Linked DNA regions of Homo sapiens. The protein of the gene in region 5 interacts with the protein of the main gene of each other region in a pairwise test. Each region holds a gene or a part of one and is shown on either strand. Other genes may lie near its edges.

Region 1 (4,258 bases), on a different chromosome or scaffold from region 5:
AGCTCAGTAAATAGGAGTTGATTGAATTTCCAGTGCCAAGAACAGAACCTAAAAGCAGACTTTGGACTTGTTCCTAACCTGTGTTTCTTTTTTCCTTTTCTTTCTTGAGACAGCGTCTCACTCCCTCGCCCAGGCTGAAGTGCAGTGGCATGATCTCGCTTCCCAGGTCCAAGCGATTCTCCCACCTCAGCCTCCCAAATAGCTGGAATTACAGGTGTGCGCCAGCATGCCCAGCTAATTTTTGTATTTTTAGTAGAGATGGGGTTTCACCATGTTGGCCAGGCTGGTCTCCAAATTCTGACCTCAAGTGATCCACCTGCCTCAGCCTCCCAAAGTGCTGGGATTACAGGCATGAGCCACCACACTGGGCCCTGTGTTTCTTTATGGAATACTTTTTGGGGGTTAAAAGGGAAATTGAAAGGAAATTTTAAAGGAAACCCTGCCCATCTATGGTTAAGCCTGTAACAACAACAATAAACACACTAAGAACTTACCATACATCAGGCATAGTTCTGCGTATACTACATATATTAACTCATTTAGTCCTCACAGTGACCAGATAAGTTAGAGACCTTTATTCTCCCCGTTTTACAGATGAGGGAAGTAAAACCAAAATGACCAAGGTCACAAAGCTAGAATATGTGTTTTTAAGCTGGGCTTTGAACCCAGGCCATCTGCCTTTTCTCTTCCACGTCTGCAGTCATGCTTGTAGGAAAGTTGGCTGGGCTTTCAGAAGAAGTTGCGAGTCTCTGACGTCTTCATTTCCCAAATTCAGGCCTTTTCCACTGTGGCAGTGGCAGGAGCTCTTGCTGAGAGCAAGGAAGGGCCAGGGGAGCCAGTCACCCACCGTCCTGCAGGATGGGAGGAGAGCTCACTTACAGTATGCTTGAGCCTCCTAATGGGGAATTTCCTGCCAGTTGAAGAGTGGTGTTTTCCCAAGTTTGTAGTGAACTCTTGGGGTTTGTAGTGTAGTCATGGGGCACATGACTCAGTTCCTACACTGGACTGTGATTGTTTTTAAAAACATGTTTTCCATTTTGCTTAGCATGACAAATGCACCCCACAGTGAACTCACAATTTTCAAAACTTGTCTTTGAGGAATGTAGTCTCTTGGTAGGTGTGTGTTTGTTGGGGAAAGGAGGGTCATATTTCTGTCTCTGGTGTGTCTTTTGTTGGGTTTTCCTTTTTTTTTTTTTTGGAGGCAGGGTCTTGCTCTGTCTGTTGCCCAGGCTGGAGTGCAGTGGCGCTATCTTGGCTCACTGCAAGCTCCGCCTCCCAGGTTCACGCCATTCTCCTGCCTCAGCCTCCCGAGTGGCTGGGACTATAGGTGCCTGCCACTACGCCCAGCTAATTTTTTGTATTTTTAGTGGAGACGAGGTTTCACTGTGTTAGCTAGGATGGTCTCCTCGTGATTCGCCCGCCTTGTCCTCCCAAAGTGCTGGGATTCTAGCCTTGAGCCACCGCGCCCAGCCAGGTTTTCCTTTTTTTTAAAGTTTTCTTCTTTGTGCTTACTTCAGCAGCACCTATACTAAAATTGGAATGATACTGAGATTAGTGTGGCCCCGGCCAAGGATAGCAGGCAAATTTGTGAAGCACTCCATAAAAAAAAGTAAAAAATGTAAAAATGAACTTTCTTCCTTGGTTTTGAAATCTAGCTAAAAGATTAAAATTTTTCCTAAGTTGGCCAGGTGTGGTGACTCACACCTGTAATCCCAGCACTTTGGGAGGCTGAGGTGGGTGGATCACTTGAGGTCAGGAGTTCGAGACCAGCCTGGCCAACATGGTGAAATGCCATCTCCACTAAAAATACAAAATTAGCTGGGTGTGGTGGTGCATGCCTGTAGTTCCAGCTACTTGGGAGGCTGAGGCAGGAGATTCGTTTGAACCCGAGAGGCGGAGGTTGCAGTGAGCCGAGATCACACCACTCCACTCCAGCCTGGGTGACAGAGCAAGACCCTGTCTCAAAAAAAAAAAAAAAAAAGCCCTTTTTTTTTTAAAAAAAAAATTATACTTCTGGTTCAGTGAATCTAGCCTTTTTCTGGATCAAGGATTCCTTTAAAAATCTGATGAACACTTTAAATTCTCTCCCCAAGAAAAACTTGTAATCACACTGCAGTAGTCAGGATAGGCTAAGTTGTGCCACAGGAACAAGCAAGTCCAAAATCCTAGTGACCTAAAAACAGCAGGTTTATTCCTCACTCACACTGTGTGTCCATCGAAGGTTGGATGAGAGTTTTGTTTCCACTTCACCATCCTCTGGGACCCAGACTGATGTGAAATCACCATCTGGGATGTTGCCAGTTGCCAAAACAGAAGGAAGACTAATGGAGGGTCTCATATTAGCAAGACACATTTTGGCCTCTAAGTGACATATATCACATCCAATCTCAATTCATTAGTTAGACTTAGTCCCAAAGCCTCACCCAGTCACAAGGGGGTCAGGAAGTTCAAGCCTACCCACATGCCTAGAAGGAGAAGAAGCAGAAATACTTGGCAAACATGAAAACCAATGCATGAGATTTTCTTTAAAACGGGGAAAACAAAACAAAACAAAACAAAACAAAAACAACCATGTTGGCCAGGTGTGGTGGCTCATACCTGTAATCCTAGCACTTTGGGAGCCAAGGTGGGAGGATTACTTGAAGCCAGGAGTTTGAGAGCAGCCTGGGCAACAAAGTGAGACCACCCCCCTATATCTACAAAAAATTTAAAAATTAGCCAGGTGTGGTGTGCACCTGTAGTCCTAGCTACTAGAGAGGCTAAAGTGGGCTCCTTGAGCCCAGGAGTTGGAGGCTGTAGTGAGTTCTGGTCTCTACTGTACTCCAGCCTGGGTGACAGAGTAATACCTGTCTCAAAAATTTATTTTAATTAAATTTTTTAAAAAATTGTAAAAGCTGTGAAATAGATCATATATATTGCAGTATAAAAGTTAGAAGTTGGTTTACCTTTAGGTAGAGAACTATTGAAAAAATGACTGGTGGCCAGGTAAAAAACTAGTAGAGTTAGATGCTGGCTATCTTTTTTTTTTTTAGAGATGGGATCTCGCTGTGTTACCCAGGCTGACCTCACAAGAAGCAATCCTCTCATCTCAGCCTCCCAAGTAGCTAGGATTTTAGTTGTGAGCCACTGCGCCAAGCAGATGCTGATTACCTAACGGGAGAATGTACTTTTAAAATTTTAAAGTTTGGCCATCTCTGGTATTTCACACCTGTAATCCCAGCACTTTGGGAGGCTGAGGCAGGGGGATTGCTTGAGACCAGAGTTTGTTTGAGACCAGCCTGGGCAACCTTGTGAGACCTCATCTCAACAACAACAACAACAAAATTAGTGGGGTGTGGTGGTGCATGCCCGTAGTCCCAGCTACTCAGGAGGCCAGAGCGGGAGGATCACCTGAGCCCAGGAGATCAAGGCTGCAGTGAGCTGCGTTCACACCACTGCACTCTACCCTGGGTGACAGTGAGACCTTGTCTCTTAAAAATAAGTTAAAAAAAATTGGCCTGGCACGGTGGCTCACACCTGTAATCCCAGCACTTTGGGAGGCTGAGGCGGGCGGATCACTTGAGCTCAGGATTTTGAGACCAGCCTGGCCAACATGGTGAAACCCTGTCTCTACTAAAAATACAAAAAAAAAAAAACCAATTAGATGGGTGTAGTGGCACGCACCTGTAGTTGCAGCTGCTGAGGAGGCTGAGGCACAAGAATCACGTGAGCCTGGGAGGCGGAGGTTGCAGTGAGCTGAGTTCCCTTGCCACTCCAGCCTAAGCGACAGAATGAGACCCTGTCTCAAAAAATAAATAAATAACAATAAAGTAAAAAAAAAAAAAGTTATAAAGTAACACAGAAGTATAATGGACTGTGAGATTACACTGAGAAAGTAAGAGAAGTATAGGTAATACAAAATGGTTGTCAGCCCAGAATAATTTAGACTTGACTCCGAAATACACATGCAGCCAGGTTCTTAAGCAGAGTGTCCACCCCAACAACCCTAGGAGATGTTATCAAACTGCATCTGTAGCCAGTTTCACCTCCATAACTCCTTTCCAGCCTCTCCACCCTTCTGCAAGGGTTCCTCTGCCAGTGTCTACTCTTAAGTCAGCCAGAATTCATAAAGAAAGAAACATAAGTTAAGCAAGTTTGACTAGTGAACCGGGAAAGACCAAAAAGGAGACTGCTAAGTTCACTTTATGGTCTCTGGTTAGGAATGGATTTTCCTGTCTGCTGATGGGTAACAGGGAAAAAAATCCTCTGTCTGTTCTCT
Region 2 (4,258 bases), on a different chromosome or scaffold from region 5:
AATTCCTGACCTCAGGTGATCCACCCACCTTAGCCTTCCAAAGTGCTGGGATTACAAGCGTGAGCCACCACGGCTGGCCTATACTTTCTAATAAAGTAAGATTTTTTTTTTTTTTTTTTTGAGGTGGAGTCTCGCTCTGTTGCTCAGGCTGGAGTGCAGTGGTGTGATCTCTGTTCAGTGCAAACTTCATCTCCCAGGTTCAAGTGGATCTTCTGCCTCAGCCTCCTGAGTAGCTGGGATTACAGGGGCCCGCCACCACACCTGGTTAATTTTTGTATTTTTAGTAGAGACAAGGTTTCACCATGTTGGTCAGTCTGGTCTCAAACTCCTGACCTCAGGTGATCCACTCACCTTGGCCTCCCAAAGTGCTGGGATTACAGGTGTGTGCCACTGTGCCTGGCTAAAGTAAGATTAAAAAAAAAAAATCAAAAGCCAGTTTTACATTTTTGTTTCCCTTCACGATTGAATGGCTTGATCTGAGACTGAGGAAATCCAGGCACGCTTCCATTTCGGCATTTCAAGTGTGTAGAACATTGCAGTGTTGAAATATGTAGAACATGTCATTCCTGGGCCTGGGATGGTGTCTCCTTGTTGGAAGGACAGTTCTTTCCCTCAACACTGCACTTTATGTATGGAAGGGGTGTGTAGTTTGTCAGGTCTGAGCTTGGGCCTGGCCAGGCATGCAGCTGGTGTTTAGTCTGCAGTGGACTTATCTTCACATGCATCTGTCATGTTTGGCCTTAGGTGCAGAAAAGCCCTGTGTTCCGGAGGGACGGCGCAGACATCCACTCCGACCTCTTTATTTCTATAGCTCAGGCTCTTCTTGGGGGTACAGCCAGAGCCCAGGGCCTGTACGAGACGATCAACGTGACGGTAAGAGGGTGTGAGAACACCTTTGTCACCCCTGTACTTTATTGCTCTTTTTCTGAAATGGAAAAGAACTGACCAGTGGCCTGGAACCCATGAGTGACCAGCATGTGGGGGGGCACTCACAGGGGAGGACATGAGGAATTTTAGGCTGCTCCTTGAGTGTGGACCACAAGCCACAGGCCTTGAGTCTATAATCGCATGGGAAGCAGTTCCTGGCTGGCATCACTCCCACACTGGTTAGCGGGGCCTGGGAACTGGGCGCATTCAGGACACAGAAGGGTTCACCCTGGGTTGTGCTCTCTGCACTTGCTTCTGTCCAGTGTCTGGCTCCAAGAGCAGAAGACTCGGGCGGTGCATATCCCTTTTGCCACAGTGATGGCTGCCTGTGTGCTGCCAGCACCTGTCCCCCACCTCTCTCTTGACCTGCCCCTCCAGCTCTTCCCACCTCCAGGCCACATCATTCTCTGTATTCGCCTCAGAACCTTCTCCAGCTTCTTTGTGGGGAACCTTGGGGTAACCTCCATGAAGGAGGTGGGCATTTTGGGCCAAGGCTTTCTCCTCCATCTGGGGGCTATTCCCTGGCTTCTCCAGGGTCCTGTGGTTCCAAGGGCCAGGGAGCGACCTCAGCCACGCACCCTGTATTGGCTTTTCCTGCTTTGCTCCCTCACTCCTGCTTCCTGGGCTCACTTGCCCAAACTCTTGCCCCCTCATCCTAGTCACAGGCTCTGCTCTGGGCAGACCCAACTTAGCTCATTTCCATGTGCTTGTGGGCGGGCTTGGCCCAGAAACCCAAGTGGTGGTTCTTTTTTTTTTTTTGAGATGGAGTCTCGCTTTGTCGTCAGGTGCACGCCACCACACCTGGCTAATTTTTTGTATTTTAGTAGAGACAGGGTTTCACCGTATTTCCCAGGCTGGTCTTCAACTCCTGATCTCAGGCAGTTCACCCGCCTCGGCCTCCCAAAGTGCTGGGATTAAAAGGCGTGAGCCACTGCGCCCAGCCCAGTGGCAGTTCTTTTTTTTTTTTTTTTTTTTTTTTGAGACAGAGTCTTGCTCTGTCGCCAGGCTGGAGTGCAGTAGCGCGATCTTGGCTCGTGGCAATCTCCGCCTCCCAGGTTCAAGCGATTCCCACCTCAGCCTCCTGAGTACCTGGGCCTACAAGCACGCGCCACCATGCCTGGCTAATTTTTTGTATTTTAGTAGCGATGGGGTTTCACCATGTTGGCCAGGAAGGTCTCAATCACCTGACCTCGTGATCTGCCTGCCTCAGCCCCCCAAAGTGCTGGGATTACAGGCATGAGCCACTGCGCCCGGCCTTTTTTTTTACCCACCCCCTCCACCACCGCTCTGCCGAGACAGAGTCTTGCTCTGTCAGCCAGAGCTGGAGTGCAATGGCACAATCTTGGCTCACTGCAACCTCCGCCTCCCGGGTTCAAGCAATTCTCCTACCTCAGCCTCCTGAGTAGCTGAGATTACAGGTGCACGTTACCATGCCCTGCTGATTTTTGTATTTTTAGTAGAGACGGGGTTTCATCATGTTGGCCAGGCAGGTCTTGAACTCCTGACCTCGTGATCAGCCTGCCTCGACCTCCCAAAGTGATGGGAGCGTGAGCCAGTGGTAGTTCTTTTCAAGGAATTCCTATCAAGATTGTCTTCATGTAGTGAAAACTTTTTATTTGAGCAACTGGGGACCAGGGGAAACCACAGATTTTCTTTCTTTATAGATCCCCCCTGGGACTCAGACAGACCAGAAGATTCGGATGGGTGGGAAAGGCATCCCCCGGATTAACAGCTACGGCTACGGAGACCACTACATCCACATCAAGATACGAGTTCCAAAGTAAGTGCCCCCTAGGCTGTGGCCAAGCCCGCCTGGTCCTGCGGTGGCACTGCCCTTGGAGCTCTGTGGCTTGGGCAGGTTACTGCTCCCTGTAAGTCAGGTGGTTCCTGCCCGAGTTATCTGTCTGTAAAGTGGACATAGTAGAATGGTCAACTTCTTTTTTTTTGAGATGGAGTCTCGCTGTGTCCCCCAGGCTGGAGTGCAGTGGCGCCATCTCGGCTCACTGCAACCTCCGCTTCCCAGGTTCAAGCGATTCTCCTGCCTCAGCCTCCCGAGTAGCTGGGATTACAGGTGCCTGCCACCATGCCCGGCTAATTTTTTGTATTTTTAGTAGAGATGGGGTTTCACCGTGTTAGCCAGAGTGGCCTCAATCTCCTGACCTAGTGATCCACCCACCTTGGCCTCCCAAAGTGTTGGGATTACAGGCGTGAGCCACCATGCCCGGCCAGAATGGTCGACTTCTTGGAGTTGTTGGGAGAATTAAATGAACAACACATAGGAATTGCTTTGCTGCTGCTGCTATTGTTGATTTTCTTCTTTTTTTTTTGAGAAGGAATCTGTCACTGTGTTGCCCAGGCTGGAATGTGGTGGTGCCATTTCAGCTCACTGCAACCTCCTCCTCCCCAGTTCAAATGATTCTCCTGCCTCAGCCTCCCGAGTAGCTGGGACTACAGGCGCTTACCACCACGCCCAGCTAATTTTTGTATTTTTAGTAGAGACGGAGTTTCACTGGCCAGGCTAATCTCGAACTCCTGACCTCAGGTGATCTGCCCACCTTGACTTCCCAAAGTGGTGGGATTACAGGTGTGAGCCAGCACGCCTGGCCCGTTGCTTTTCTTGTTGATGTTACTAGCACTGTTAGGAGCTGGAGAGGTGGCCTGGGCAGAGTGCTGTGGGTACCTAGGGCGGGACATGCCTGACTCCCCTCGGGAGCACTCATGCTTTTTGTTAATTAGATAATTTCTTTTTTTTTTTTTGAGATGGTGTCTAGCTCTGTCTCTAGGTGGAGTTCAGTGGTGCAATCTCCACCTCCCAGATTTAAGCAATTCTCCTGCCTCAGCCTCCCAAGTAGCTGGGACTATAGGCATGTGCCGCCACGCCCAGCTAATTTTTGTATTTTCAGTAGAGACGGGGTTTCACCTTGTTGGCCAGGATGGTCTCTATCTCCTGACCTTGTGATCCGCCCACCTTGGCCTCCCAAAATGCTGGGATTACAGGCATGAGCCACTGCGCCTGGCCTAATTAGATAATTTCTTACTTGCTTCACATACACACTGGTAAAATCTGTTTCCCCTCCTGTAAACTGTATTTAGCATAGCCACAGTGACACTTGTTTAAATGACTTAGTGTAGGGTGTTTTAGGAGCTTTTCTGTACAGAAGCTTTGAGGGCATGGTCCTTAGGTTCTCACCGCTGCACTGGCTCAGGGTGTCCGCCCCTGCCAAGGTTGGGTCCCTCTCTTCCCATGTGCTGCGAGGGTGCTGGCTGCCTGTGAGTTCTTTCCAAAGCTTCCCGGCGGAAGCCTTGGCTGCTGACTCTGCTCGGTCCACAG
Region 3 (4,258 bases), on a different chromosome or scaffold from region 5:
AGGGAAAGCTGCAGACTAGCTGGCTTCCTGGCTGCTATCCAGGCAAGGATTTTGTTTTCTCTATTACAGTCGATTATCCTAGACTTTAGGGAGCAATAGGTCTCTGGACTGTAGGTTTCAGCCTCCGTTCTGGGCTTATCTTTGGATTCTTGTTGATGAGTCAAAAAAAAAAAAAAAAAAAAGGAGTGACCATCAGATGTTTGCTAACTCTTCAAGTATGAGCTCAACCTTGTTATCTGCCTGGAGTCATTTCCTTTGAAAATGTATGGTAGACTTTGCCAAAGTAAGTAGTAATGTCCCATTCCTTCTCAGGAAAATGTGTACACATAGATCAAAACTATGCATTGTAAAACTCATATCTGTTTGAAAACATAGAGGTAGGGACAGAAAGTAAACATATGAAGGATTTGACAGGACACATTACCAGCCTGGTGGTCCTTTTTGGAAAATGTTTGCTTTCTCGTAATTGCCTTCAAAATAGGGACAGTGTCCTGAATGTTGGTTACAGTTGTTGAAGATTTCTTTTTGAGATTATGCTTGGATGATGGGGCCTTAAGAAGAGAACCCACCCAGTCCTATTTTGTGCCTTCGTTTGGACATGTTCTCCCTTTTCTTCCAAGGTACTATACACTTAATTAGTATTGGGTCTAGTAGGACTGAGATTTTGTTTTCCTTTTTTTTCCCTAGGGTTCTCAGAAGCGAGCTATCTCTACCCCAGAAACCCCCCTAACAAAAAGGAGTGTGTCAACTCGTAGCCCCCATCAGCTACTCTCACCGTCAAGTTTCTCTCCAAGGTATGGATCATAATTCATTCAAGTGCCATAAAGCTGGCCTCCCCTCCCCTTTCTCTGGCTATCTGAGGAAGGCTAACAGCAGAGTTATTAATTAACTATAGGTGGGCATGTACCTCTGCAGTGAATTGGCTTGAAAGCCTATTGCTCTCTGCCTTCCTTGCTCTCCTTTTCTTTGTGGAAAATTACTGTTTCTTACGGTAATTAAGGAAACTCACTTTCCACCCACTTTTCTAGGGCTCATTTCCTAGATCGGGAACTGATATCTTGTATTGAAAACAACCTGTCTATTCAGAAGTCTAAGAGTCTTAACAGGTCTTGTCAGTAGAGGCAAGTAGGTTTCCACCTGCTTCTGTTTGTGTTTTGTTGGGTTTCTTTTTCTTTCTTTTCATCTAAAGTTTTTTTTTTTAAAGAAAAGCACATATCTTTGTTCATAATGTTTCATAACCTGTTTATTGTTTCCAAGTCAGGTTAGAACTAGTTTCTGAGAGTTTTCTTGTCACTGTGACTCTGCCCTGACTTAATTGGTATTTTGTCCCTCTGCCACCATTGCACATAAATCCACAAAGATCATATGTAATTTTTTGAAATCCATAAATGACACGTCTCATATTAGAGAATTCCATAGGCAAGTGCTCTGCTGAGTAGATGGGTTTTTAGGAGTTTCCACATCAAGATGAGGCTCCGGAGCAGTAGTATTAACCCTTCAGGGAAACACCAACTGCCAGGAGTCATTACCTCTACTTTGGATCACTTCTAGATGAACCAGAGCTTAAGATTGTTCAACTCTATCACTTTTTTTTTTTTTTTTTTTGAGATGGACTCTCACTCTGTCACCCAGGCTGGAGTGCAGTGGCACCATCTTGGCTTACTGAAGCCTCTGCCTCCCGGTTCAAGCGATTCTCCTGCCTCAGCTTCCCGAGTAGCTGGGTCTACAGGCGCTCGCCACCATGCCTGGCTAATTTTTGTATTTTTAGTAGAGACGAGGTTTCGCCTGTTGGCCAGGCTGATCTTGCACTCCTGACCTCAGGTGATCCACCCGCCTTGGCCTCCCAAAGTGTAGGATGTCAAGCATGTGCCACTGCTCTCGGCCTTTTCAGCTCTATCACTTTAGAAAGGTGGTGATAGAAGCTCTGCAGTCATTCAAGGTGAGTGGTCATTGGATTTTTTTTTTCTTTTCTTTCTTTTTTTTTTTTTTTTAAGATAGGCTTTTACTCTGTTGCCCAGGCTGGAGTGCAGTGGCACAACTATAGCTCACTGTAGCCTTGGCCTTCCAGGCTCAGGTGATCCTCCTACCTCAGCCTCCTGAGTAGCTGGGACTACAGGTGTATGCTACCAAGCCCAGCTAATTTTTATAATTTTTGTAGAGATGGGGTTTTACCATGTTGCTCAAGCTGGTCTCGAACTCCTGGCCTCAAGCAATCTGCCTGCCTTAGCCTCCCAAAGTACTGGGATTACAGGCATGAGCCAGCATGCCTGGCAGTAATTGGATTTTGAAGGACAGTTTTACTTTAGGGTAGTCTACTGCTGCTTTGGGGAGTTCTCAGGCTTTTTGGAAGAAAGCTTTCTAGACTTAAGAGCATCTTTGCAACCTGGTATGTAGGGATGGTTCTTATAGACGTGCCAGCACCATTGCAGGAGTTATATTCTCCAAATGTCAATACAATGCTCTGAAACCTGTAGATCTGTTTACAACTGTCCTCATGTGAGCATCTTGCTGCATTAAAGGGCCTGCTGTAATGGATGGCTCATGGAGCTTCCCAGGGAAGAGCTTGGAGAAGCTGGCAAAATGCTGCCTAGTCATTTTTTAATGCACACTAATAAAGCTGACAGCAGAAACTGGTTTTGTAATGTATGAAAGTAACTTCTAAACTATTCACGTAGAGGTGGCACTGGAGATTGAGATAATTAATTGAGCTCATTTTCTGTAGGCTGTGAAAAGAAAGAATGATGGCATTAATTGCGATGGTGCCCCACATAAAACTGGTTCCCGCAGAGTTTCAGTGCATTAAACAAAGCCTGTTTTAAATAGACCTCTCTGTACGGCGTGTTTACAACCAGAGGATTAGAAGACCTCACTGTCATCTAAGCAGATCAGCAATATCCATGTGTTCTTAGAGGTATAATTTACCAGTCAGGGAGTGGAAATGTGAGAACTTGGCAGTTGAGCCTAGAAAAATGGGAATGTTTGCACATCACCAGACTGTTAATTCATTACTTACCCACCTCCATAGACACTGGGGAAAATTGATTAATTTGAATTTCATTTTATTGTTGTTTCTACCTTGAACCATATTGTGAGTTTTTATATATGCTCAGCAAGTTTTAGCTTATCCACAGTTGCAGGCTCAGATGATGTTCCAATAAATGCTAAAAATTCATGAGAAGAAAAAAATGGGACTTAAAGTTTGCCTTTTAATCAATTCAGAATCTGGGGATCTTTTTGCCTTGCTTAGTTTTAATGCCAAGAGAACGACAACTTTTTAAAATACGTTTCTGTCTCTAAACTTCTCTAAAAATGTTTGGTATTCCTCAGCCTGGTATTCCTCAGCCCTTCATTCCTGAAATTCCTTAAAGGTCTGGGTATGTCCAACCCCATTAAACTGATTCAATTTATAAACTATGAGGCCACCTTCCTTTTCTCCAGTCCCCATTTCCAAAGGTAACCTCATTTTATTCTTCTCTCCCTTTAGATATGAACACAGTAATATTAACCTGTTTTGCTTCCAATTAGTGCTACTCCCTCCCAGAAATACAACTCACGAAGTAACCGAGGAGAAGTGGTTACCTCCTTCGGCTTAGCACAGGGAGTATCTTGGTCTGGGAGAGGAGGAGCTGGAAACATCAGCCTGAAGGTCTTGGGATGTCCAGAGGCACTAACTGGGAGCTACAAATCCATGTTTCAGAAGCTCCCAGACATTCGAGAAGGTGATTGTTTTTCCCTTTGAAATTCTGGTGGATATAAAACCACCTAGAAGGGTGTAGAGTAACAAAGCTTCAGCTAGGCTGGTAGAACAAGTTCCAAGGTTGCCTTTCAATGTATGAGTTGGTAGATGTCCTCATGGAAGCCCTAGTAATGGAGGGACACGGGCAATACTATCAGTGATTGCCCCAAGTCACTTCACTTTGCTAAAACGCACATAACCATTCCCAGCAGCAAAAACTTGAACGATGTAAAGGAATTCAACTTAAAGATATTCATGGTTCCTTCGTTAGAAGCCTTCTTCAGGTTGGCCTTGACTTGCCTAAAACCTCAGTGAGGACTTGAGTAAAGGGCAGACTTGGAGATGGGGTGGGGTTCATGCTGATTCCCTGGAATTGTGCTATGGGGTCTCCTGTGGCCAGATGGAAGGCCAGATTCAGCAACCAAATATCGGAAAATTGGCAAAGGTTTTAGAAGGTTTAAACTGGCCAGATGTCCAGGCACCCTTCCTGCTTCTGTAAAATGACTGACTTTAATATTTTAC
Region 4 (4,258 bases), on a different chromosome or scaffold from region 5:
AATAAAAAGTAAAAAAAAAAAAATTAGCTGGGCTTGGTGGCATATGCTTGTAATCCCAGCTGCTTGTCAGGCTGAAGCAGGAGGATGGCTTGAGTCTGGAAGGTTGAGGCTGCTGTGAGCCGAGATCGTGCCACTGCACACCAGCCTGGGCAACAGAGCAAGACCATATCTCAAAAAAAAAAGAAGAGAAAGAAGTGTCCCAGGACTAGCTGTTGGCTTGGATGCAGGAGTGATGGAAGGGGAGATTTCAGAAATTCCGACTTGAGAAACTGGGTGGATATAGTGGGGTGGTTTACTAGGGTGGAGGAAAACGGTGGGGGGAAGGCAGGGTTTGGGAAGGTGTTGATGTGCTGTTGGGTTGGAGATGCTTTCTAATCATCTAAGGGAGGCCATCAGTAGAAAAGTTGGCGCTGATTGGAGAGGCTGGGCTGTACATTGCTTGCTAGGATACGGGACTGGAGTGTCCAAGCAGATCTGGTGGCCCTCAGCAGGGAGCAGGGAACTTCGGAGTTGCCTTGGCCACTCCTTTCATCTCCCCTCCTGCTCTCTCACCCCACCTCCCAGGTCTATACTCGCTATGGGAAGTGTTACACCTTCAACGCGGACCCGCGGAGCTCGCTGCCCAGCCGGGCAGGGGGCATGGGCAGTGGCCTGGAGATCATGCTGGACATCCAGCAGGAGGAGTACCTGCCCATCTGGAGGGAGACAAGTACGCAGGCCGGAAAGGGACAAGGGCCACCTTGGGGACTGGGGCCTGGGCCCTCTGCCTGGGATGGGTTTCCAAAGGTCCCCATCTCTGCTGTGCAGATGAGACGTCGTTTGAGGCAGGTATTCGGGTGCAGATCCACAGCCAGGAGGAGCCGCCCTACATCCACCAGCTGGGGTTCGGGGTGTCCCCAGGCTTCCAGACCTTTGTGTCCTGCCAGGAACAGCGGGTGAGCATCTCCTGCTAGGCCCTGGATTGGGCACAGGGCTCGCCTTTGGGCTCAGAGGGGATGTGGAGCAAACCTGCCCTCTAGAAGCTCAGAGCCTGCCAGCTGTGTTGACTTTGCTGGGGCTGTGGGCACTGGAGGACTGGGTGGGATTCCTGAGCATGACCTCATCATGCCCCACCTCTGCAGCTGACCTACCTGCCCCAGCCCTGGGGCAACTGCCGCGCAGAGAGTGAGCTCAGGGAGCCTGAGCTTCAGGGCTACTCGGCCTACAGTGTGTCTGCCTGCCGGCTGCGCTGTGAAAAGGAGGCCGTGCTTCAGCGCTGCCACTGCCGGATGGTGCACATGCCAGGTGGGCACCCCACCCCCAGCCAGCCCTCCATGCCACCCTGCTAGGCTCCAGAGCCTCCCGGGGCAAGGCACTGCTCATGTGCACAGGCAGGTGCATGTATACAACATGTGTATGTGTCTGTACCCGTGTGAGTGTGAGTGTTTGGGATTTTTAAACATGGTTTCACATATGCATGTGGGAATGCCGGCATGCAGATGCCTGTGTGCATGTTAATATGTATTTGTGTACGTGCATGCTCATTTATATCCGTGGTTGCGTATTTGTGGGGGTTGTGTGTGTGGTGTTCAAGCACATTTATGCAAATGTGTGCATATGTGTGTGCATGCATGTATGTGCTTACATTTGGGCGTGTGGGGGACAGGGGAAGTGATCGTAGATTCCAGGAATAATCTTCTCTCCTTTCAGGCAATGAGACCATCTGCCCACCAAATATCTACATCGAGTGTGCAGACCACACACTGGGTCCGTGCTGCCTACCCTTTCCTACCTCTCCATCAGCCTCTTCATGTCTCTGTCCACTCTTCTCCTCACTGTCTTGGATCCTCCCCTCCCAATCTCTTCCTGGAGGGTTCTTCCTGGGGGTTGAGCCTTAGCCCATACTTCAGTGGGGTTGGGGAGAGGTCTGCGGACCTCTGCAGGTACAGACACTTGGGTAAGTGGAGGCAGCAGGGTGGGGGGTTGCAGAGAAGCCAGGACTGGGAGTGAAGGTCTGGGCTTCTCATCTTGGTTCAGCCAATGAGCTCACCCACTTTGAGAAAGTGAAATGACTTCTCTCTTGGTCTCAGGAAAAATGCATTGCTGGCTATCGGTGTGGGTAAGGCAAACCCCATCTGTCCACAGATCTTGCCTGATCTGCAGTTCATCCATCTATCCATCCATTCATCGATTCGCGCATTCTCCAGACCTTTACAGCCTGTGCTGGGTACTGGAGGTGAGAGTGGGGGCGACAGCCCTGCCCTTGGAGAGCTTACACCCCGGCAGGGCTGTGGACAGCCATTCCCACACAGCCCGTCAACTCCTGGAGAGGGGAGCCTCGGGTGTGCTGCAAGGCCCCAAGGAGGGGTGTGCAGCCCTAGCCTGGGAAGGTAGGGAGGATTCCTAGAGGAAGGGACACATTAGCTGAGGCTTGATGGGTGTATAAGAGTCAGGTGCAAAGGGGGACATACACTGAAGACCTGTGGCCAGAAAGAGCATGCTGTGTCCGGGGCACTGAAAGGTCTGTGTGGCTGCAGGGCAGAGAACAGGGGAGGGAGTAGAAAGAGTAGAGGAGGGAGGCCAGGCACGGTGGCTCACAAGTGTAGACCCAGCACTTTGGGAGGCCAGGGTCTGTGGATCACTTGAGCCCAGTAGTTCAAGACCAGCCTGGGCAACATGGTGAGACCCTGTCTCTGCAAAAAATAAAAAAGTGAACTGGGTGTGGTGGTGCACATCTATAGTCCCACCTATTCGGGAGGCTGAGGCAAGAGGATAGGCTTGAGCCTGGGAGGTTGAGGCTGCGGTGAGCTGGGATCACACCATTGCACTCTAGTCTGAGCTACAGAGTTACCCTGTCTCAAAAAAAAAAAAAAAAAAAAAAAAAAAGAGGAGGGAGGCTCTAGGAAGCCAACAAAGGCCTGTGGCAAGGCAGGAATGCCAGGTGAGTCCAATGAGATAGGAGGGGAGGAGACTCAAAGCCAGGGACTGGCGAAGCTGGCTGCAGTAATCCAGACACCTGGGGCCTTGGGGCTGGGTTTGAGACACTGGGCAGCCACACACATCCAGCCCTTCTCTGTCCCCCACACCACCTGCATCTGTCACAGGGGTGATTGGAGATGTTTAGTGAAGGAACAGATATGTGATCAGGAGTAAGGTGCCTGCAAGGCACAGCGGTAGACCACAGAGCTAGCAACATGGGGAGCCTTCATTCCCACCAGGCCTGCAGGAGGAGAGAGAGACCTGTGGCTGTCCGAGAGGGCTGACTGACAGCAGCATGGCTGGAGGAGCACAGCCTCTGCCACCTACGGCCTGGCAGTGAGAAAGCCAGGCGGGAGAAATACCCTGGCATCTCTTCCCTCTCACCTTCTGTTTCTGCTGGGGCCTCCTGTTGGCCAAACTGAACCCAAAGCCAGAGGACAAGGGAGTTTAGTTGATGCATTTGGGGGAGATCAGCCTCATAGGGTGCAGAGCAAGGTTGAAGAGTGGAGAGTGGATCTGAAGGGGCAGGCAGAGAAAGCCCAGCACATTGATCCTGGGAAGCTTGTCGGTCTATTTGTTCTTCTGTTCGCCCATCCGTCGATCTGGCCATCTGCCATCCATCCATCCATCCATCCATCCATCCATCCATCCATCCATCCATGCATGCATCCCAGCATCCTCTCCACACCTCCTTGTGTGTCTGAGGCCTCACATAGTTGATTAGCTCTGGTGGATGGGCTGTGTTCTCCCTCTGGGCCACGAGGACCCCCCCCCAGTCCCAGGGGGTTGGGAGGGTGCTGGGGGGTTCTGCTTATATCTGCTCTCTGGAGCAGTCTGAAGCTGGTTCAGGCGGGGACCTGCAGCCAGTCCCCTCTAGGAAGCACTGGGGCTGGCCAGTAAAGGCCCTCAGTGTGGGTGTGCCTGCCTCAGGACGGCCCCTGGGCCTCCTCTCTGCAGCTGGTGGGCCACTGGACCACCCTTCTCCAACTCCCACTGTAGCTGCTACCTCTGTGTTGCAGACTCCCTGGGTGGGGGCCCTGAGGGCCCGTGCTTCTGCCCCACCCCCTGCAACCTGACACGCTATGGGAAAGAGATCTCCATGGTCAGGATCCCCAACAGGGGCTCAGCCCGGTACCTGGCGAGGAAGTACAACCGCAACGAGACCTACATACGGTATGTGTGTGTGTGTGTGGGGGGTGGCTGTGTGACTCTGTGTGTACGTGTGTGTGGGGGGTGGCTGTGTGACTCTGTGTGTACGTGTGTGTGAGTGTATGTGTGTATGTGTTTGTGTGTATGTGGG
Region 5 (4,258 bases):
ATTTCTCTGAATGGAATGGATGTACCATAATTTGACCACTCAATCATTTAGATATTGAGGCTGTTTTTATTTTTTTTTATTTTTTCACTACACAGATATGTTTTTATTTTCATTATAAAAATTATAACAATGTAATGAACTTTCTTGTTGCTAAACTCTTGAATGAGTTTTAAGTGCTTAGTTATTTCCTGGAGATAGATTCCTAGAATTGAAATTTGCTGATTGTATGTAGTATTTTACAGCCCTCTCCCCCAGCCCTAAGCAATGTTGAGTGTTTTAAAAACAAAACTAACCTTAAATTGTTTTTATGATAGGCGGTTTAAAGTATGCTATTTTCTTTTATCAGTGGCCACTTTCTTTTAGGAGCGTAGACTTTAAAAGTTGGATGAAAATAGAATGTTTACATTTTGTTTATATTTTGAAGATGTAAATAAACCAAGGCAGTCTCTGGATGATACCCTTTGTACCTAAAAGCTATTGAGAAAATGTTTTATTTGGATTTGTTAAATGACTCATTTGTGGGGTCCTTTAGTTTGCAGTGGTTTCAGATCAACTTTCTAGGAGATGTGGCACCCATGAGCACCCTGAAATACCTCGGGATAATTCTCTGGTTTTGAGGGTGGCCCGCCTCCTACAGATAAGATTCTTTGTATGGTCGGTTGTGAGGCCATTTAAAACTTTTGCCTTAAGACTTCATAAATCAGAGTTGATACATTGATTGTCCCTTTTGGAGGCTGCAGTTCTTAAAACATGTGGCTGTTTTTCCTAGGAATATTTAAGTACCACTTGATAATAAAGTACTACCTTTTGCTGGGATTATCTACCTGGAAAAAAAAAGGGAACAAAAAATTAAAAATAAAATGTAATATCTGTGGTGTTTTATTTTTTGTTTTGTTTTGCTTTTCCTGCAAATTTATTCTTCCAAAAAAAATGTCCCTTTCAAAATAATCACCCTTTGGCGTGAATTTACGGGTTATTGAAATCAGTCTTAAAAAAATTTCCAGTTAAATTTAACAACTTATCTAACCCATTTAATAATTCAACTTTAAAACAAAAACGAACCTTTGAAAACAAATATTTACTCTTAAGCCAGTTATCCTTATACAAGTTAAAACATTCTCCAATTCCTTCCAGTCTTTGCTTAATAGGACTTTTACATGATTCACACTACACTTTTGATCAAAATTGTTATTACCCAGTTTGATCACACAATTTATTGAGGACACTTGGATTTGGTTTTCAGCTATTTATTAAAATGAAATCCATCCTAAAGTGAACAGGATTTTTACCATTTAGGGGATTCAAAAGTATATTCTTTGAAGGGAATTTCCAAAGAATTCCAGAAATATTTTGAGCCCTAGAAGCATGTATGAATAGATGTGTAGCCTCCCAAGATAACTGGAATCAGAGTGCATTAGACTGCTTGATGGGCTCTCGGCCATGTAGTCCAATGAGTCTCAATTTTTTCCCCTTCCAGCTGCACATAAGAAATATGGCGCACATCCCTCAGTAACAGTATGAGCACATCAGAACCTAGGAGGGTGGTGTTTGGGGCACCCTCTCTCAGGCATTACCCTCCTCTCCCAAGCTGAGAAAAATTACTACCCTGCTCTGTCTTCCAGAGCAGACAGATGGGAAAAGGCAACCAGCAAGGGCTGGTAACCTGTCCAGGGTCATGTGTGAGTGGCAGAACCAAACCTTAAACTTGATCCTCCTACCTCCCTTTGAAGAGAAGCCCCTGCAGTGCTTATGTTCTGGTGCGTATGTTGGGACAAACCAGTCTGGCTACCCTCAGTCATACCCTGAGGAGCTGACCAAACTATGTGGCCATGAGAGAAGGATCTAGAGAAGGTCTAGGCCAGTAGGCTTTCTTGTAAGCTTCAGGAAAATACCCAGATAATGTTATTTTTCCTCCGTTAAGAATCATGGCCTTCTACCCTTTGTTGCAGTTGTGCGAAGATGCCATTTTGAGATGGGAATGCTGCCTTCACCTGAGAGTCTCCATCAAGGAAATTGGCCATTTTCAACTGTAGAGTCAAATCCAGCAATCATGGAGAGAGTAGGGATTAAAAGCCTGCTCGGCTGGGCACAGTGGCTCACGCCTGTAATTCCAGCACTTCAGGAAGCTGAGGCGGGCGGATCATAAGGTCAGGAGTTCAAGACCAGCCTGGCCAACATGGTGAAACCCCATCTCTACAAAAATACAAAAATTAGCCAGGCATGGTGGCGGGCACCTGTAATCCCAGCTACTCATGAGGCTGAGGCAGAAGAATCGCTTGAACCTGGGAGGCGGAGGTTGCAGTGAGCTGAGATCCTGCCATTGCACTCCAGCCTGGGCAACAGAGACTCCGTCTCAACAACAACAACAAAAAATTGCCTGCTAAGCCTAATTCACAGTTTAAGCTAATTTCTTTGCTTGGAGTCTAATAATATCCAAGCAGGTGCATGTTTTCAGTAACATCTCGCCTAGTCATATGTCTGAAAGAACAAAACTGAAAGTTCTTTCCTTAGAGGCCTTTAACCCAAGCCGCTCTTCTCTAGCTCAGTCACAGCCTTCACCAAGAAGTCCTGAAAAGATAGAACTCTTGCATTACCGTGCTGGTTCTGGGTGTTTGCCTTTGCAGAGGCGCCACCTGCCAAGCAGTTCTGGCACCAGGGAGCAGGTCTGTGATGACAGGAGAGAGACAGTGGCTGTGACTCTGGCTCTTAAACCACAATGGAGGGATTCAAGTTAGCTTAGGTAGCTCTCAGAGGAGACTAATGAGGGAAGGAAGGAGCAAGGGGGGAAGGAAGGTGCCCCTGGGAGTGTGTCTCACTTCCCTTGCTGGTTCATCCGAGAAGGCAGGGACCCTGGCTTGCTGATGGTTGCATCCTCTGTGGCATTTAACGTGGCATGCTGGTTATACCCACTGTAGGGGGCACTCAGCAAATATTTATTGAATTCTTCTTTGAGACTCATTAAGACCAATAAAGGGGCTGTATTATATCATCAAGCAAGTGGGTTGTGGATGGGGGTGGGAGGTATTGCTTCAGCTATATTTTATATTCTTTAATGGGATTGCACCAGTTGTGTGTCTTTCTACAGAACTAGAGGAGCTTTCAGGATATTTGCTTGGGTGGACGTGACCCATAGTGTGTAGTGTTCTTTTGGTGGGCTCTTCTTATCAGTAATGAGATTAATTTTTCCATTGCCAAACTCCATGAGGTAAACAGTTTGTGATTATTTCATGTCAGTTTCATTTTTCACTCAGCATGATGTTTCACTGTTAAAAAAATGAACCTTGGCCCAGAGTTGTCCTCTCATGTATTAAACATGACTTCCTTTGTTAGTAGACTAATTTATAATTATAATTCAAAACCATCCCATTCTCCAGTGGATTATTTCCCCCCTCTCTGTCAGATGAAGGAATAATTGTTTGTCTGGGCTGCAGGAGTGTCTGTCATGGAAACCGAATTTTTCTGTACATTCTCTGAACAAACAGTGCTGTCACATCCCTAGAACCTGACATTGTCATTGATCTCCAGTTGAGTCAGAGAAGTTTGTTGACCAAGGTAAATCAGATCTCTCTTCTCTTAAAGCAAATGGCCCATGACTCCTGAGGGGCCACTAGGAGTGAGAGAATCACCTGTACAGGGGGCCACAACTGTGGCTAGGAATGTGTTACTTGAGGCGGTGCTTCCCAGCCATGACTCAGTCACCTGGGGAGCTTTTTAAAAACGCTGTGCTGGGGCCCCATCCTATGTGAATGAAATTGGAATCTCTGGGAGTGGGGGCCGGCATCTTTTCTTTTTTAAAAAAAAAATGTTTAAGGCCAGGCTCAGTGGCTTACACCTGTAATCCCAGCACTTTGGGAGGCCAAGACAAGAGGATCACTTGAAGTCAGGAGTTTGAGACCAGACTGGGCAACAATGAAAGACCCCATCTCTACCAAATAAACCAGCAAAAAATGTTTTAAGGCCCAAGTGACTCTGATGTGCAGCCAGGATGAGGCCTTCAAGTAATTTTTGTACCTTAATCCTGGAAAGAACAAATGCATCTCCAAATTCCCAGTCACGTCACAGAGCACGGGACCAGACTAGACACAGCATTTGGCTCATTTTACAGAGAGGTTAGGATTGATAGAGTCCGCTAGTTAGTGTTAGAACTAGAAATAAAGTTCTAACTTTATTTCTAGTTCTAGGCGTGGTGGCTCATGCCTGTAATCCCAGCACTTTGGGAGGCTGAGACGGGCGGATCATCTGAGGTCAGGAGTTGGAG
Region 6 (4,258 bases), on a different chromosome or scaffold from region 5:
GGCCCTTTAAATATGTGCAAACCATTTTAACTGTATCTTAAATTATGCTTGTTTGAGCAAAAACTTTGAGATTTCAAACCCGTTTTAAAAACTTTTTTAATGTAATTGTGCATTCCCATGCAGTTTTAAGTAATAATAGAGAGATTCCTTCTACTCTATCCATTTCCCCCAATGGTAACATCCTGTATTATTATGGTATAATATTACAACCAGGAAATTGATATTGATGCAATCTACAGCATTTAGTCAGATTTCACCCATTTTATATGTACTTCTATTTTTTTTATTTTACTAAGTGTGTATTTAGTTTTATGCAGCTTTATCATATGTGTAGATTTCAGAGAGTACCTCCACAGTCAAGATACGGAACAATTCCATCCCAAGGATCCTCAGTACTTCTTTATTGCAATCATGGACACCTAATCTATAACAACTGCCTAATCCATAATCCCCTCACCCAAATCCATAACAACCATGAATCTGTTCTCCATTATCATTTTGCCATTTTAATACTGTTGTATAAATGGAATCACATAGTATGTAACCTGTTGAGATTGGCTTCTTGCACTCAGCATGTCTCTGGATCTTCATTCAGGCTGTTGCATGTATCCATAGTTTGTTCCTTTTTATTGCTGAGTTGTATTCCATTGTATGGATATACCACAGTTTGTATAACCATTCACCTGTTGGGGACATCTAGGTTGTTTCCAACTTTTGGCTGGGATAAAGCTGCTATAAAAATTCACTTACAGGTTTTTATGTAAACATAGATTTTTATTTCTCTGTTCTAAATGCCCAGGAGTCCAATTGCTGGGCCATATGGTGGCTGCATGTTCATATGCTTTATATGAAGCTGCCATACTGTTTTCCAGATGTTCCTAGCCGCAGTGTCTGAGTAATCCAGTTTCTGTGCATTTCTGCCAGCACTTTGTATTGTTGCTGTTTTTTACTGTAGCCATTTTGATAGGTATGTAGTGATATCACACCTATATATGTACCTCATTAATTTACCATTCCCTAATGGGTGAAGCTATTGAACATCTGATATTAAACCAAAGAGTTTGGTAAATGTGCCTTTGTGTCTTTTGTCCATTTTTAAGTGTTTTTTTTAAATGTTGAGTATTGAAGTTCTTTATATATTCTAGATACATGTACTTTGTCAAGTATGTGATTGGTAAATATTTTCTCCCACTCTGTAGCTTGTCTTTTTGTCCTCCTCACAGGACCTTTCTCAGTGCAATACTCCAAACATATTTTTTATTAAAATGTAAGTTGATTTTTGATTCATTGAATGTATCTTACGCATACTGAGAGCTAGAAATTTCCTTAAGAATAAATGTAATTTATAGATGCATAATACTTTTTGCTATAAAGGTGGTTGCTTGTATACTAATAAATAATAAAAGTGCTTGCTTAGGTAGTAAAGATACTAATTATGTATTTTTTCAAGTAAGAAATGAACTAAAATTTGAAATGAGGAAATGGGTTGCAGACCATCTACTTCTACCAGTTTTGAGGGGATGGGACAGTGGAATATGAAAGCAGCTTACCAAGATGTGGTGGCTTTGCACTATGTCACTTTAGCTAAGTTGGGACTATGTTTCTTGGAATTGCCTTTGCAAGATGATCTGGGTTAGGGCTGACCATAAGAAAAATTTCTGCAAGATTTGGAAGGTGAAAGTGAAGTGGCTAAGATCACATTCAGAATGTTGGCATAGGTTTTGTTGCTGCCAGGCCTCTTGCAGTTTGTCACAGAAATGTTGGTGAACATGCTGTTGGTTTGCAGCAGCACCCAGGCCCTCAGCTCCTCCAGTGCTCTCCAGATCTCGTCTTTCAGCTACTTGGAATCATGGTGCAGGTGTGTATGCAGCTCTGCAGGGAAGAGTGCCAGTCTTTTTGCAAGCCTCTTGCATTGTTAAAGTTGGAGCCTTAAAGGCAGTGGAAAACAGACATGTATTTTAGCTCATCCTTGTGGGTTCCATTTTGCCTTTGCTTCCCCCTACTTCAAGTCCATTCACCCTCTCTTCCAGAATGGCCCTGCTGCCCTGCTGGCTTTCAACTTGGATAATAGACACAGAAGCATCACACTTACATAGGCTATTTAACCAGCCCCAGCAATAGTAAAAGGTCAGATCCCCATAGTACATCCCTTCTTCTGAATCACTCATGGTGGCTCTGGTTTTCTAGTCTAACCCTAACTGATACAAATGACCATCTCTTTGTGTTCCTTGAAGTGAATTTAGAATTACAATGAATTTCTGTTTCCAGTCAAATCTCAGATTCAGTCTTTTCATAAGATCATGCCCAAGGGCATGCAAGAATATTTTTGGACCATAGTGGTACAGAATCAAAACATCTGTGACTCTGCAGCAATAACATTTTTTTTTTGCTTCTTTTTCCTTCCCTGGCCATGACCTGTTTGTAAGCCTGAAATCAAGAGAAATGCATTAAGCTACTCTGTAGAGGGTGAATTGACACAGAACCAAACTCTATGATGTCCATAACCCCTCCCTTGAAAAATGGTCCAGAATGGTTTAAAATAAACTTAGCTTTTTAATTTTATCCCAACCCTTCTCTTGGGAAGAAGATACTGCTGAATTGTTCGCAGTGCCATTCCATTCAGTAAGCAGGTGGAAGTCTGCTTCAACAAGCAAGAACCAATGATTTTTTAATGTTAAAGATGGGGAAACTAAGCAAATGAAAGGACTTTAAAATCCTGATTCTTTCTCTGTGTGTTTAGCCTATTAGATTATATTTGCTATAATGCTTTATTTTATTAAGAGCTTCTGATGGTAATATAAACCATAAGAGTGAAAGTGGGTGGTTTAAAATGTCAGAGCCAAAAAATAGACTATCTTAATATGTGCAGCTGTAGGAATTTACAGCATTTTAATGTTTGATCTTGAAGGTTTTTTGCAGTAGTTTGCATCTTTTAGTTACAAATAGTATGCCAACCATGAAAATAAGCACTAGCTAACCTCCATGCCCACAACCTTAAAGAAACGGTGATATGTTTCTTTTGTTTCTATTCCTTTTCATTCAACTTCTGTGGGATTTCATTTTGACACAGCCTGTTGCCACAAGGCTGATAAGTTTGTTTTCTAAGTCTATCATAGGACACAAGTGAAGATTCTCTAGGATGTTTGACTAGATTGTCTAGGATGTTCAGTGACAGAAATAACCAAGGGAAAATGTGATTGGAGGCAAGAAAAATTTTATAAAGAAAAATGAAAAACTGCCTTTGAAAATTTTATGCCACCCTAAGGTTATCTTGGAAGCTCCAAGAGGTGGAGGTTGTGATTATAATCTAGTAGGATATACTTTATAGACTACAGTCTGGTAGTGTAGGAGGGACAGAAAGTGAGAGGAATATATTTTTGGACTCATGAGGGTTTTTATAGGTGAGTCCCTGAATCAAGGCTTGGAAATCACCTTCCGAAGCAGTCTATTATTACCAACCAATGTCTTTTCTGTCTTTCTTTGGAGCTACATTCATATTTTTCCTAACTTTGAGTATGTCATCATCTCACTTAAAGAGAGGGGTAAGGAGGTCGGGCACGGTGGCTCATGCCCTGTAATTCCAGCACTTTGGGAGACTGAGGCGGGCGGATCACTAAGTCAAGAGATCAAACCCATCCTGGCCAACATGGTGAAACCCCATCTCTACTAAAAATACAAAAATTAGCTGGGCATGGTGGTGTGCACCTGTAGTCCCAGCTGCTCGGGAGGCTGAGGCAGGAGAATTGCTCGAACCTGGGAGGCAGAGGTTTCAGTGAGCCGAGATTGCACCACCGCACTCCAGCCTGGCAACAGAGCGAGACTCTGTTAAAAAAAATAAAAAGAGAGAGAGGGGGGTAAGGAATGCCTGATCATGCCCACACAATGGCAGTGTTTCTTTCCCAAATAATAAGATACTGTTTCTTTTCTATGAAGTCCTGTTTGATCTGACCCCTGGCTACCTCTCTGATCCCTAGTCTACCAATCTCCACCTCATTCTCTGCACCAGCATTCCAGAGCCCTTGTTCTTTGCACAGGCCAAACCCACTGCTACCAAAGGCCTTGCATGTATTGGTGGTTCCTCCTGAATGCTTTTCCCCAGATCTGTGCAGGGCTTATGTGCTCACCACCTTTGGTTTCTGCCTAAATGTCACTTCATCCCGGAGGCCTTCCCTGGTGGCCAGGTGATCAAAGTAGCAAACACTCCTCTGTGTTTTTTTACCCTTATTTCCTTACCCTGCTTTGTTGAGTTTTACCTCCC
Region 7 (4,258 bases), on a different chromosome or scaffold from region 5:
AAAAAGCATATCTTAACTTGGAAGGATAGTTGGAGAGAAAAGATGACTAGCAAAAGGCTGAGGAGAAAGACGTTACTACAGAGAAGTGTTGTATGACTGCTCTGTTTAAGAAACATTACCTTCATATGTTAATTTACTTTTACTTTGCCAAATGTGAGTTGAAGAGGCAAAGGACCCACCCCTCTATTCAGCAAAAATAATAGGAAAGGCCACTGAAGCAAGTGAAAATTAAACTAGAACATCCTATTCCCTCAAGGACATTTCTTTTTTTTTTTTTTTTTTTTTTATCCCGCAAAGGTGGTGAAAGCTGTTCTTTTTTTAAAGAGGGGATGGGAAAAGAACTAACATTGACTAACAGGAAGGGTCAAATAAAGCTTTAGGAGTCAGGGTAGAATGGCTTTTTTTCCCCCTCCACCAGACGGAGTCTTTGCTCTGTCACCCAGGTTGAAGTGCACTGGCACCATCTTGGCTCACTGCAACCTCTGTCCTCCCCAGGTTTAAGCAATTCTCCTGCCTTAGCCTCCAGAGTAGCTGAGATTACAGGCGCGTGCCACCACGCCCAGCTAATTTTTGTATTTTTAGTAGAGACAGATTTTCACCATATTGGCCAGGCTCGTCTCGAACTCCTGAACTCTTGATCCACCCGCCTTGGCCTCCCAAAGTGCTGAGATTAAAGGTGTGAGCCACCGTGCCTGGCCAGTAGAATGACTTTTTTAAACAATAGTTTCTGGAACACTTATTCTGTTTTATAGAATGAAGTGTTGTCCCATTAAAAAAAAGAAAAAAATGTTCTCTAAATAATCCCTAGAAAGGGACCCTTATGACTGGCGTTCAATAAGCATACCTAAAATAACACTGATTCAAGAACAATGCTTTTAATATATTAAAGTCTTATGATCTATACTAATAGAAGGCAGCAACAGGCAAAGGGAATTAATTTTATACTTTAGTAAAATAAAAATACACCTTTTGATTAACAAATTTAAAAGACAGACTTTGCTGCTTAGGATATTATTAAAATCTATTTGCTATGGCTCTATACACAATGATTTTAAGGAGTAGGATGAAGGCTCAGAAGCAGGCTAGATGACAAGGAAACAATCTGGATTAAAAATTTGTACCGGAGTCACTTGTGAATAATCAAGAATTGAGGTGTGGAATTGTGTCCTTGGCCATCTTCAATTTAGTTCACAGAACATTTGTTGAGCGCTTACTATGTAACAGACACTGTGCTACGTGGTAGGTGAAAAAAAAGGTTCCTGAAGAACTACCAGTCTAGAGATGTGGTGATGTTCTTGTTATTGAAAAAAGTAGTGTGGCAACACTAGCCAGGGGGAAAAATAAGTACCTAAAATTTATTTTGTCAGAATATGCCTTTAGCCTTATCAAATCATTCTTGCTCAAAAAGAAGACTGGATTGGGCCAGTCGCAGTGCCTCATGCCTGTAATCCCAGCACTTTGGGAGGCCAAAGAGGGTGGATCACGAGGTCAGGAGATCGAGACCATCCCGGCTAACACGGTGAAACCCTGTCTCTACTAAAAATACAAAAAATTAGCCAGGTGTGGTGGCAGGCGCCTGTAGTCCCAGCTACTCAGGAGGCTGATGCAGGAGAATGGCGTGAACGCAGGAGGCGGAGCTTGCAGTGAACTGAGATCGCGCCACTGCACTCCAGCCTGGGCGACAGCACGAGACTCCATCTCAAAATAAATAAATAAATAAATAAATAAATAAATAAATAAATAAATAAAAGGAAGTTTGGATTAGGATCCCCTCAGGGCCTGGGAAAGACCAGAGTAGAGGCAAGGACTGGAGAGTAAGTAACCTGGAATTCTGATGTCAAAGGAAAATTTTCAGTGTCCCACTTTGCATTTTGGGGGCTTGATCTGTGGTAGAACTGTCCTGCTAAAATCAGGGCATCTTTATTCTGGAAGCAGAGCAGTTAAGTGCAAGTCATGCTCTCACTAGCTACTCATGGATTTCATTTTATTTATTTTTTTAAGGTCCTTCTTTGAAAAAGCAAATTTATTTCCTATCTAAAATGGTAATCTGTTTCAGATCTGTTTTGACTACCAGTCAAATTAATTTGACTAATTTAAGATATGTCTGCTTGTGAGCCGAGATTGCACCACTGCACTCCAGCCTGGGCAACACAGTGAGACTCTGTCTCCAAAAATTAAAAAAAGAAAAGAAAAGATATATCTGCTTGATTATAACAATCAAGGGACAAAAGATTCCTTCTCCCATATTCATATATTTTGGTATTTATTAAGCACGTTCTTATTGTGTTGGGTACTCATTTAACTTTCATTTAACTATTATTTAACTTTCTCAAACTGTAAAGATAGCTAAGATTATTTAATCCTTTTGATCCATTATGTTCAATGAACCAGTAGAGTATGATATTTAATATTTGGTAATTAATTTATTCCCTGCCTTCTTTTTGGTTTTGTTGGTCTATTCATTCATTCCACAGTTATTTACTGAGCATCTATGCTGCGCCAGGCACTATTCTAGGTATTGGATTTGTTATTTGTCCAAAGTAAAATAAAACTAACAGAGGCAGATAGAACTATAAATTAGTTTCCTCATTCCTAAGTTTAATATACAAAATTTTCTGTTGAGAGTTAAAAATCCTATTTATGTTCCCAAGTGAAAAAGTGTTAGGAATTTGAGTAAACCATCCAATACAAACTTCATGAATAATTTTTATTTCTATTGTTTTTAAAGATAACATATTTTAAAGCTCAGGTACAAGAACTAAATGGATTTCATGAAAAGATACCATATCTTAAGTTTTCATATATATTCTATTTTTTGAGCTCACTTACATTTTAAAGGTAACTCATCCAAAGTTTTATTTGCAAATGTGTTTTGATTTTCTTCCATCATATTTCCTCTATATATTTCATGATAAAATAGGAATATATAACTTAAATTCTTCCTGACCTATATATTTTTTGTGGATCAAATGCAATTATCTTCTACTTCAGAATATAAATTTTATCTGTTCTACTTAAGTCATCACACATCAGGGAGAGAAAAGTATTGAAACACTCATATTATCACAAGGTAGGTCTATGACAGCATGCAAAAATAAAATTAAAAATCCCATTAGTTCTAGACCAGGGTTTTCTTTCTTGTTGATTATGCCAGTAGTGTCTTTCTTCTAATTCTGGTTGCCTATCTGAGAAGTCCTGGAGCAAAAAGATCCAACTGAATTCCTCTCTTTTGCCCCCTCTACTCATAGAGCCCCAGGGGTAATAGAAAGGAAAGTGCCAGACCTGTCAGCACTCATGATCACTCCCTCCAAAAAGACAGCCCAGCAAAACCTTCTTTTTTTTTTTTTTTTTTTTTTTGAGACGGAGTCTCACTGTGTTGCCCAAGCTGGAGTGCAGTGGCGCAATCCTGGCTCACTGCAAGCTCCGCCTCCCAGGTTCACGCCATTCTCCTGCCTCAGCCTCCCGAGTAGCTGGGACTACAGGTGCCTACCACCACACCCGGCTAATTTTTTGTATTTTTAGTAGAGACGGGGTTTCACCATGTTAGCCGGGATGGTCTCGATCTCCTGACCTCGTGATCCGCCCACCTCGGCCATTGCGCCTGGCCTCAAAACCTTCTTTTTTACTCTTCAAATACATGATCACTTGCCCATGTTGAAAGGACACCAGCTGGCAATGCTGATCTCTTGGTAGATTTCTGCATCTGTCTGACATCTTTGCTTTCCTCAAATTGCTTCCATGTCTTCCTGATAATCTGGGTCCTTTGCTGTCTCTCTGGTCCTGAGGCACTGTCCACATAGCACACCAGCCATAGCTTCTATGGCCTTCCCCTTTTCCTTGAACATACAAAGCTCTCTCTGTCTCAGTGCTCTTGTACTTGTTGCTTTCTGACTCATCCCCATCTCTTACCCCAGCTGGCTAGCTTCTATTTGTTTTTGAAATTTCTGCTTAAATGTCACCTCATCAGGTAGGCTTTTCTTACTCCCTGCTAGAGTAAGTCCTCCTTTTACCCGAGGCAAGTTTCTTTCTTTCTTCTTCTTCTTTTTTTTTTTTTTTTTTTTTGAGTCTCACTCTGTTGCCCAGGCTGGAGTGCAATGGCGCGATCTCGGCTCACTACAACCTCTGCCTCCTGGGTTCAAGCAATTCTCCTGCCTCAGCCTCTCGAGTAGCTGGGATTACAGGCATATGTCACCAGGCCCGGCTATTTTTTGTATTTTTAGTAAAGACGGGGTTTCGCCATGTTGGCCAGGCTGGTCTC

The links.
Region 1: the proteins of ERN1 (region 5) and WBP1L interact in binary tests that used the Homo sapiens proteins (3 or more experiments, as listed by UniProt).
Region 2: the proteins of ERN1 (region 5) and DNAJA3 interact in binary tests that used the Homo sapiens proteins (3 or more experiments, as listed by UniProt).
Region 3: the proteins of ERN1 (region 5) and POLA2 interact in binary tests that used the Homo sapiens proteins (3 or more experiments, as listed by UniProt).
Region 4: the proteins of ERN1 (region 5) and ASIC4 interact in binary tests that used the Homo sapiens proteins (3 or more experiments, as listed by UniProt).
Region 6: the proteins of ERN1 (region 5) and TMTC1 interact in binary tests that used the Homo sapiens proteins (3 or more experiments, as listed by UniProt).
Region 7: the proteins of ERN1 (region 5) and TAOK3 interact in binary tests that used the Homo sapiens proteins (3 or more experiments, as listed by UniProt).

What each region holds. Positions count from the first base shown.
Region 1 is NC_000010.11:102,802,425-102,806,682, forward strand, and holds part of WBP1L (WW domain binding protein 1-like isoform 1 precursor), read left to right. Parts: intron 1-4,258.
Region 2 is NC_000016.10:4,446,142-4,450,399, forward strand, and holds part of DNAJA3 (dnaJ homolog subfamily A member 3, mitochondrial), read left to right. Parts: intron 1-744; coding exon 745-873; intron 874-2,591; coding exon 2,592-2,707; intron 2,708-4,258. UniProt on the Homo sapiens protein: Modulates apoptotic signal transduction or effector structures within the mitochondrial matrix. Affect cytochrome C release from the mitochondria and caspase 3 activation, but not caspase 8 activation.
Region 3 is NC_000011.10:65,275,205-65,279,462, forward strand, and holds part of POLA2 (DNA polymerase alpha subunit B), read left to right. Parts: intron 1-687; coding exon 688-794; intron 795-3,525; coding exon 3,526-3,719; intron 3,720-4,258. UniProt on the Homo sapiens protein: Accessory subunit of the DNA polymerase alpha complex (also known as the alpha DNA polymerase-primase complex) which plays an essential role in the initiation of DNA synthesis.
Region 4 is NC_000002.12:219,531,194-219,535,451, forward strand, and holds part of ASIC4 (acid-sensing ion channel 4), read left to right. Parts: intron 1-564; coding exon 565-709; intron 710-807; coding exon 808-935; coding exon of another isoform or gene 936-953; exon of another isoform or gene 954-1,121; coding exon 1,122-1,284; exon of another isoform or gene 1,285-1,689; coding exon 1,690-1,746; exon of another isoform or gene 1,747-2,069; coding exon of another isoform or gene 2,070-2,386; exon of another isoform or gene 2,387-3,977; coding exon 3,978-4,131; intron 4,132-4,258. UniProt on the Homo sapiens protein: Does not exhibit measurable stand-alone pH-gated sodium channel activity but may form pH-gated heterotrimeric sodium channels. Its activity could also depend on alternative gating mechanisms.
Region 5 is NC_000017.11:64,119,609-64,123,866, reverse strand, and holds part of ERN1 (serine/threonine-protein kinase/endoribonuclease IRE1 precursor), read left to right. Parts: intron 1-4,258. UniProt on the Homo sapiens protein: Serine/threonine-protein kinase and endoribonuclease that acts as a key sensor for the endoplasmic reticulum unfolded protein response (UPR).
Region 6 is NC_000012.12:29,776,685-29,780,942, reverse strand, and holds part of TMTC1 (protein O-mannosyl-transferase TMTC1), read left to right. Parts: intron 1-4,258. UniProt on the Homo sapiens protein: Transfers mannosyl residues to the hydroxyl group of serine or threonine residues.
Region 7 is NC_000012.12:118,194,349-118,198,606, forward strand, and holds part of TAOK3 (serine/threonine-protein kinase TAO3), read right to left. Parts: intron 1-4,258. UniProt on the Homo sapiens protein: Serine/threonine-protein kinase that acts as a regulator of the p38/MAPK14 stress-activated MAPK cascade and of the MAPK8/JNK cascade.